Linked DNA regions of Homo sapiens. The protein of the gene in region 2 interacts with the protein of the main gene of each other region in a biochemical or structural test. Each region holds a gene or a part of one and is shown on either strand. Other genes may lie near its edges.

Region 1 (3,909 bases), on a different chromosome or scaffold from region 2:
CTCGGGAGACCACTGGAGCCCCACACCACCAGCACTGCCCTTTCACACACAGCCTCATCTCCTGCTTCTCACTGAGCCCCAAGAGCTTGTCACCTTGAGGTCAGTCCATCCAACGGGCCAGGTTGGTTCCTGCCTCAGGGCCTTTGCCTATGCTGTTTCCTCTACCTGGAATGACTTTCTGCTACCTCTGCCTGGCTGTGTCCTCCTCATCATCCGGTCCTCAGCTTGGTGGTCCCTCCTCCTCCAGAAGCCCGCCCTGACCCATCCCCTTTCAAACAGATCAATTTCCTGGGGACTCCTACCATTGTCTGTGTGTCCCGTCACAGCCATGAGCCCACTGGGCTCCCCATTTGAAGGAGAGACTGGGTCTGGCTTCTTCACCCTGTGTGCCCATCACCCAGCACAGGAGACATGACACACAACAGTCCTTGATGTTTGTGAAATAATTATTGTGTCTAGAAATGTCCCCACCTCCAAGCTTCACATGCTTCCCTCCACCAAAACTGCCCTCACCTTTTCCCTCTGCTGATCCAAGTCCTCCTTTTCTTTTATGTCTGTCTCCTTGCTACCTCCTCCAGGAAGCCCTCGGTGACTTCTCTGTAGGCTCCCCAGAAAACATATCTGGCTCTGAGTCTAGATTCACCCCTGCCCTCGGGCAGTGGCCTTAGGCCAGTCACTTTTTCTCTCTGGGCCTCAGTTTCTCTGTCTATAGAATAGACGCTGTGAGTACTGGAAGGTGGGAGTGGAGAGTGTTAACTGATTGCAGGAGGTTAAGGGGTTTTGTAACTCCAGAGTGTGGCTGGCCAGTTAGCGGTAACTTTTATTTTTATTACAGGCTGTTCCCACAGCAGCTGGAGCACAGTTTGGAAGGTATGGCACAGCCTGGACAAACAGAAGCCCCGGACCTCCCCTTGCTAGAGCCCTTTAACTTGCTCCCCTCCAGATGGGGGCCTCACACCCCATTGCGCAGATTGGAAAACCAAGTGGGCCTGTCCCCTTGGACAGGGGTTGGGGCAAGATCCTGAACGCTGTCCCCTCCTCCACCAGCCGAGGGACCATGGGGAGGGGAGGGAACACCAGCAATGAGTTGGGTTGGGGGGAGTCATTTGCAGCCCTCCAGCGTTGGGGCCAGAAGCGGCCTCCTTGGACAGAGGCAGGAAAATTGAGAGTCCCAGGTCTCAACTGCCCCTCCCCTATTTTCCATTCATCATCATAATCATCATTACTATTAATCATTAATTAATAATTATTAACTTATTACCTCCATTGTGCAAGGGAGGAATTACGCCTGGGTAATTTTTGTACTTTTAGTAGAGATGGGGTTTCACCATGTTAGCCAGGCTGGTCTCAAACTCCTGACCTCAGGTGATCTGCCCGCCTTGGCTTCCCAAAGTGCTGGGATTACAGGTGTGAGCCACCGCACCCAGCAACTTACCCAGTTTTGAAGCACTTCAGGAGGAGTGGAGGGCCAGTCAGTCTGATCCATAGTGGGTGGACCTATTTTTTCAGACGCTGGTGACTCTGTTTCCCGAAGTGTGAGCTGAGAGCGTGGCCATGGAGCCTGCCTTGTTTGGAACTGGAACTCAGGTTTGGCATACAGCAAGCACTCAATCAATCAATCAATCAATGAGCTGAATGCTATGGCTGGATCCTGTAATCCCAGTTATGTGGGGAGTATCGCTTGAGGCCGGGAGTTTGAGACTACTAGCCTGCAGGACATAGCCAGACCCGGTCTCTAAAAATAAAAATAAAAATAAAAATAAATTAGCTGGACTTGGTGGTGCGGGCTTGTAGTCCCAGCTACATGGGAGACTGAAGCAAGAGGATGCGATACAGCCACACCCCGTCACACACACACACACACACACACACAGACGCACACACACAGTGAATGAAAGTGGGGGCAGTACCCCCTGACTCCCTGCCCCACCAGCTCTCTCCACAGACCCCGGGACTCAGTTTCCCCACCATGTCGGATTCAGCCGCGGGCGACTTCGCGGGGCATTCCGGGCGGGGACTTGAACGCAGGGGCCAGCGCCATCTGTTTACCTTGAGGCTGGACGTTGGGCAGGGCTGTGGTGGGCCGTCCCTGGGGCCGGCCGTGCCTTGGGGATAAATAGGCCCCGCGGGCCTCGTGGGCGGTAGAAAGCGAGCAGCCACCCAGCTCCCCGCCACCGCCATGGTCCCCGACACCGCCTGCGTTCTTCTGCTCACCCTGGCTGCCCTCGGCGCGTCCGGACAGGGCCAGAGCCCGTTGGGTAAGCCGCGTTAGCACCCGCGCCGTGCCCACGGCCCCACAACGGACTGTAGGACCCGTGAGAGGCCCGGGATCCAGGCTGTTTGGGGCTCACGGACTGTTCGTAGGGGACGTGCCGGGCGCAGAAAGCAGGTGGCGGGACCGAGACTAGAGGAGCGCAGTGGGGCCTCGGAGGTCCGGGTTCGCTGCAACGGTGGGAGTTGGTGGTGGGATTCCCCGGCCCCATGACGCCTCACCAGGTCCCCTGCCGCCGCAGGCTCAGACCTGGGCCCGCAGATGCTTCGGGAACTGCAGGAAACCAACGCGGCGCTGCAGGACGTGCGGGAGCTGCTGCGGCAGCAGGTGCGGGGCCCGGGTGCGGGGCAGGGAGTGCCAGGGAACGGAAGGGGGTCTCAGTTCCCAGCGAGGAGAGAGGAAGTACCCGAGAAGGTGGAGAGGAGATGGGGAGGGAAGGGGGTCGGCGGGTAGGGAGTCCTTGGCGAAAAGAGGCTGTAGAAAGGGACCCCGGGGTAGAGAGAGGGGAGACCCGAGGGATGAGGAGAGGTTGGGACCCCGCTGATTCCATCCCACCCCTGCAGGTCAGGGAGATCACGTTCCTGAAAAACACGGTGATGGAGTGTGACGCGTGCGGTGAGCGCGGCGGGGCGGTCGGGAGAGAGAAGAGACGGGAGACAGAGACACAGAGACAGAGACAGAGAGCCAGGGAAAGCTGGGGAGGAAAAGAGACGGAAGGAGATGGAGGCTGACGGAGAGGTGGACGGACGAACGGGAATGGGATGGGGTGTGTAGAAACAGAGACAAAAAGAGACAGAAGCGGTGAGAGAGTTTTGGGGAAGTGAGAGACGCCACGGGGCAGAAAAGCGGGACAGAGACTCAGAGAAGAGACCGGGGAGACCCCGCGGTCAGAGCGCGCAGCCTCTGGGGCGGGATCGCGGACAGCGCAGGATTTCGGGCCGCCCCGGGGCGGGGGGTGGGGGGGAAGGGGAAGCCTCCAGCCCCGGGGCGTGGCCATGATAGGCTCTGCCCCCGGGCGAGCCACCGATCAGCCCCGCCGCTTCTCCCCCCTCCCCCCCGCAGGGATGCAGCAGTCAGTACGCACCGGCCTACCCAGCGTGCGGCCCCTGCTCCACTGCGCGCCCGGCTTCTGCTTCCCCGGCGTGGCCTGCATCCAGACGGAGAGCGGCGCGCGCTGCGGCCCCTGCCCCGCGGGCTTCACGGGCAACGGCTCGCACTGCACCGACGTCAACGAGGTGCGCTAGCCCCGACACTCCACCGCCCTGACGACTCCCTCTACCGCCCCCCAATCTCTCGCCGCCCGGGAGACCCCTTCCTCCACTGGGAGTGTTCGCCCCGAAGAGCCTCTCACCTCCGGGGGCGCACGGCCAGACTACCTCCTTACCGCGGGGGGACGCCCAACCCAAGGACCATCCCCGTCACCACCCGGGACGCCCGCCCCCACAACCCCCTACATAGCTAGTGACGCCCGCCCCGACGACTCCCTCACCGCCAGGGGTGGTCCGCCCCAGCTACCCTCCTCGCCGCAGGGGATCGCCAGTCCCAACGACCCTTCCACAGCCAGGGAACGCACGCCCAGACCCCCCGCCACCGCCGGGCACGCACGCCCCGACGACCCCTGCCCCCCTCTGCTGGGG
Region 2 (3,909 bases):
GAAAATGGAAGAAAAAGGCCATAAGCCAAGGAACTCAGCAGCCTTCATGCGGTGGAAAGGGAAGGGAAATGCAGTCTCCCCTAGAGCCTCCCAAAAGGAACACAGCCCTGCCGACACCTTCATCTTAGCCCAGTGAGACCAGGGTCAGACTTCTGACCCACAGAACTCTCAGGTAATAAATGTGTGTTGTCTTAAGGCACTAAATTCACAGTAATTTGTTACAGTGGCCATAGAAAACTAATACCTGAGGCTTGACCATGGTGGCAGAAAATTCTGTGAACATCTGGTTCCTTCCTGACTGGTACTCCGCATCAATCATTAGTTGTTTTTGAATCTCACTCCCATTTACTAAATAGCAGCAATTTGATTCCCAAGAACAAAGAAAGAATCTGAATCTCCTAAAATGTTCCCATACTCATAATACCACTGAGTCCTTACAGTCCTGCTAGAAATAAAAATCCATAGCGAAGCTTAGCAATTTCTGGTTGCTAAAAGGAGATAATTTGGAACAGGGTGGAATCTCGCATTTATTAATGGGTTATCATTCATGATCAGGTTCGGACTCTAGGTAATGAAAGACCAGTAAAGCTTAGGGGGACATGGCCACCTGGTGCTGAATCTCTCCTTCCTCTTCCAGTCCCATCCCAGAGGGAGGCAGGTCAGGACTAGAGTAAGATTAACTTCCAGAAGAAAGGCTTTCCCTCAATTCCCGGCCTGGAGCAACCAGCCACCAGCTGAATCTAGCCCTGTGGACCCCGGTACCTCCTGCCTTAGCAGCAATGCTTTTGCCATTTCAAATCTGCCACTTCAAATACGGGGACTGAGTATTTGAGTCAGGAAAGAGTCCCTTGAGCTCCTTCTCAGCTTATCCAGAAAGATGCAGAAGGGGATAGACAATTGAAATCAGCCTGAGGCATGCAGCGTGGCTGGCCAAATGAGACTGCATACCCAGAAATGGCCTGGCACAGACTCTTTTTAGCAAGACTGAAGCTGCGCTTTTTGGAAATGAAGATACAATCTTATGTAAACCATATTAAGAGGTTGGTAGGCTGGGGCAGTGGAAAGAGACCTTGCTTGGGATTTCGGAGCCCTGAATTTTATTGTGGCCTCTGATACTGATTCACAGAGTCCCTTCAACTTGATATGCCTCAGTTTCCCTTCATGTGCTGTCAGGGGCTGTGTCAGACGACCTGCCCGCTTCGCTGCACTATGAGCTTTGCTCTGCTTCAGGAATCAATTGCTGACCAAAAAGAGAAATAGAATTGTTCGCCAAAGACCCAGAGTGTCTTGATCCTGGGGTATCCTACGGCTCCTCGGATCTCCTCCTGGTCTCACACCCGCATCCCTTACCTTCCAGTCTGAGGCAGCCTGAGGACTGTGGGAGGGGAGGAAAGATCACGCCCTGATATTGGATGGAGATGGAGAGATTCCAAGAGAACTAACAGCAGAGTCTCAGGAAGGGTTTGCTCACTGAATGGAGAGGTCAGGACTGGGACGGAGCTTAGCAGCAGCCGCTGGGCAGCAGCCCCTGCGCTCCCCAGCTGCCCTGTGCTCCTGGCCGAATCACAGGGGAGTGAGAGCTTCAGGAGACCCACATCTCTAGCCTGGACACATGAGTGATATTGGGCATCTCCCTCCCCTTCTCTGGACCTCAGTTTCCCCCACAGGATTCATCCGGGAGGGGCCTCTTTCCCCCGCACCACGGTCGGCCTGAGGCCGGGATGAAGCGCGCTTGGTGGATGCCCTGGGCTTCTCCTCGTTCGATGCTCACGCGTCCCTCCCGCCGCCCGCCTGTACCTGCACCGCGGGCGCGGCCAGGCTCGCTGGTCCCGGAAGCGGGCGCGCCGTCGGGAGCCGCAGGAGAGGGGCGGCGTCCAGGGCTGCCCCCGGGACCTCGGGTCTCCAGCCTCCGGAAGCCCGGGCGGGCCACGGGGTCGGGGGCGGCGGAGGGCAGCAGCAGCAGCGGCCAGAGCAGCAGGAGGAGTCCCGGGAGGCGGCGCGCGGGGGCCGGGCGCGGCATGGTGGGCTCCGTGGGCCTGGTGGTGTCCGTCGGGGGCCAGGAGCCCACGCGAGGCTCGGATTTAAAGGTCCCGCGGCCTCGGGCCCCGCCCCGCCCCGGGGCCTCGAGCGCCAGGCCGGCCCGGCGAACCCCGCCCAAGGCCAACAAGGAGCCTTGTCCGCGCATTCCAGCGGCAGAAACGGAATGTCTGGGCGAGGCGGCCAGCGGCGCGGTGGTCACCTCCCGCCCCTGCCCTAAGCCCCGAGCCGGCTGCAACTGGGTGGGCTCGGCTGCTGTCGCAACCTCCGTCCTCCCAGTAACACCGGGGCAGGGGGGGCAGCCATCCGCGGCTGCAGCCTGCCCGGCCCTCCACTCTCCCTCCCACCCCAGCGGGGCCTGCGCCCCAGGTACGGGATGGGGACCCCTGGGCTCTGCTTTCCCTTCTGCCACTGGTTTGCCCGACTGGGGCTGAAGATGAAACCCTGCTCCTAGCTCTACATTCCTTTCCTCAGCCAAGTAACCCAAGTTTTGCTGTGGGCTCTTGTTTAAAAAAAAAAAAAGAAAGAAAAGGCCTCACAGATTCTAGGGGCATGAATAGAAACGCTTTCATCCGAGCTTCAAATATCCACAAACATTTGAACTTATATTACCGGGAATAGAAAGTCAAACATACATTCCCCAGAGAGCCCCGTTAGCTGGAAGGACAGCCTGTACCAACACAGGCTTCAAAGGCTCTCCCGAGGCCCCATTTCCTCTCCGGAAGAGTTAGCATGGTACAGGGCTGGAGGCTGCCAGGGGACCCCCATGGAACTCACTGTCTGTGAGAAGGAGATTTGCATAAATGTGGTGTCTGTCTACGGGAATGTGGTGGATTTAGGAAAGAGATACTGACTGCCTGCGGAGACCAGGAAGACTTCTAAAACCAGGTGACATTTGAGCTGCGTCTTAAAACAATGGGCGCGAGTTCCAACAGAGCCTATCTGGTCGTCCTATTTCACTATTTTCCCTCTACAAGTGATCCTCCTCACACGATCCTAAACCTCACTTCTCATATTTGTACCCCATGCTGGTAGCAGCATTATACACAATAGCCAAGAGGCGGAAACAACCCAAGTGTCTCTCTTTGTGTGAATGGAAAAGCAAAATGCAGTATCTACGTACAATGGAATACTGTTCAGCCTTAAAAGGGAGGAAATTTTGGCAGATGCTACAAAATGGATGAACCTTGAGAGTATTATGTTAAGTGAAATAAGCTAGTCACAAAAAGACAAATACTGTATGATTCCATTTACATGGGGAATCTAGAGTAGTCAAATTCATAGAGACAGAAAGAATGGTGGTTAACAGGAGCTGAGGGGAAGTGGGGATGGGGAGTTGTATAATGTATCAATGACATTGGGCAGTGATAGTCACACTGAGGGAAAAGGTCACTCAACTCCCACTGAGAACTCACCAATTTAGAAGGACCTTAGAAGAAACGAGAAGTTTGTAATAATGGGAAGAGGACACTAAGAAGTTTGAAAGAAACTATGCCAAGAAGAGGAGGGATTGATAAATACAGTATTTGCAAGCTCTGGTGGACATTTGTCTTTCGTCTTGCTTTTAGAATGATCCCCAAAGCCTTTGAACCCTACATTAGTCAGGGTTCTTGAGAGAAACAAAACCAATAAATTTTATATACACATACATATAGAGAGAGGGTGGGGGGAGTAATTGAGATTATGAGGGATTGGTTCATGCGATTATGAAGGCTGAGAAGTCCCACAGTCTGCTGTCTGCAAGCTGGGGGCCCAGGAAAGCCAGTGGTGTAATCCAGTCCAAGCCTGAAGGCCCAAGAGCAGGAGAGCCAATGACATAAGGCCCAATCTGAGTCCAGAGACCCAAGAACCAGGAATGCTGATGTCCAAGGA

What was found.
Region 1: the proteins of MATN3 (region 2) and COMP form a complex in vitro, tested with the Homo sapiens proteins (one study listed by IntAct).

What each region holds. Positions count from the first base shown.
Region 1 is NC_000019.10:18,789,540-18,793,448, reverse strand, and holds the start of COMP (cartilage oligomeric matrix protein precursor), read left to right. Parts: upstream 1-2,143; 5' UTR 2,144-2,179; coding exon 2,180-2,258; intron 2,259-2,513; coding exon 2,514-2,599; intron 2,600-2,835; coding exon 2,836-2,887; intron 2,888-3,334; coding exon 3,335-3,507; intron 3,508-3,909. UniProt on the Homo sapiens protein: Plays a role in the structural integrity of cartilage via its interaction with other extracellular matrix proteins such as the collagens and fibronectin.
Region 2 is NC_000002.12:20,010,612-20,014,520, forward strand, and holds the start of MATN3 (matrilin-3 precursor), read right to left. Parts: upstream 2,058-3,909; 5' UTR 2,021-2,057; coding exon 1,798-2,020; intron 1-1,797. UniProt on the Homo sapiens protein: Major component of the extracellular matrix of cartilage and may play a role in the formation of extracellular filamentous networks.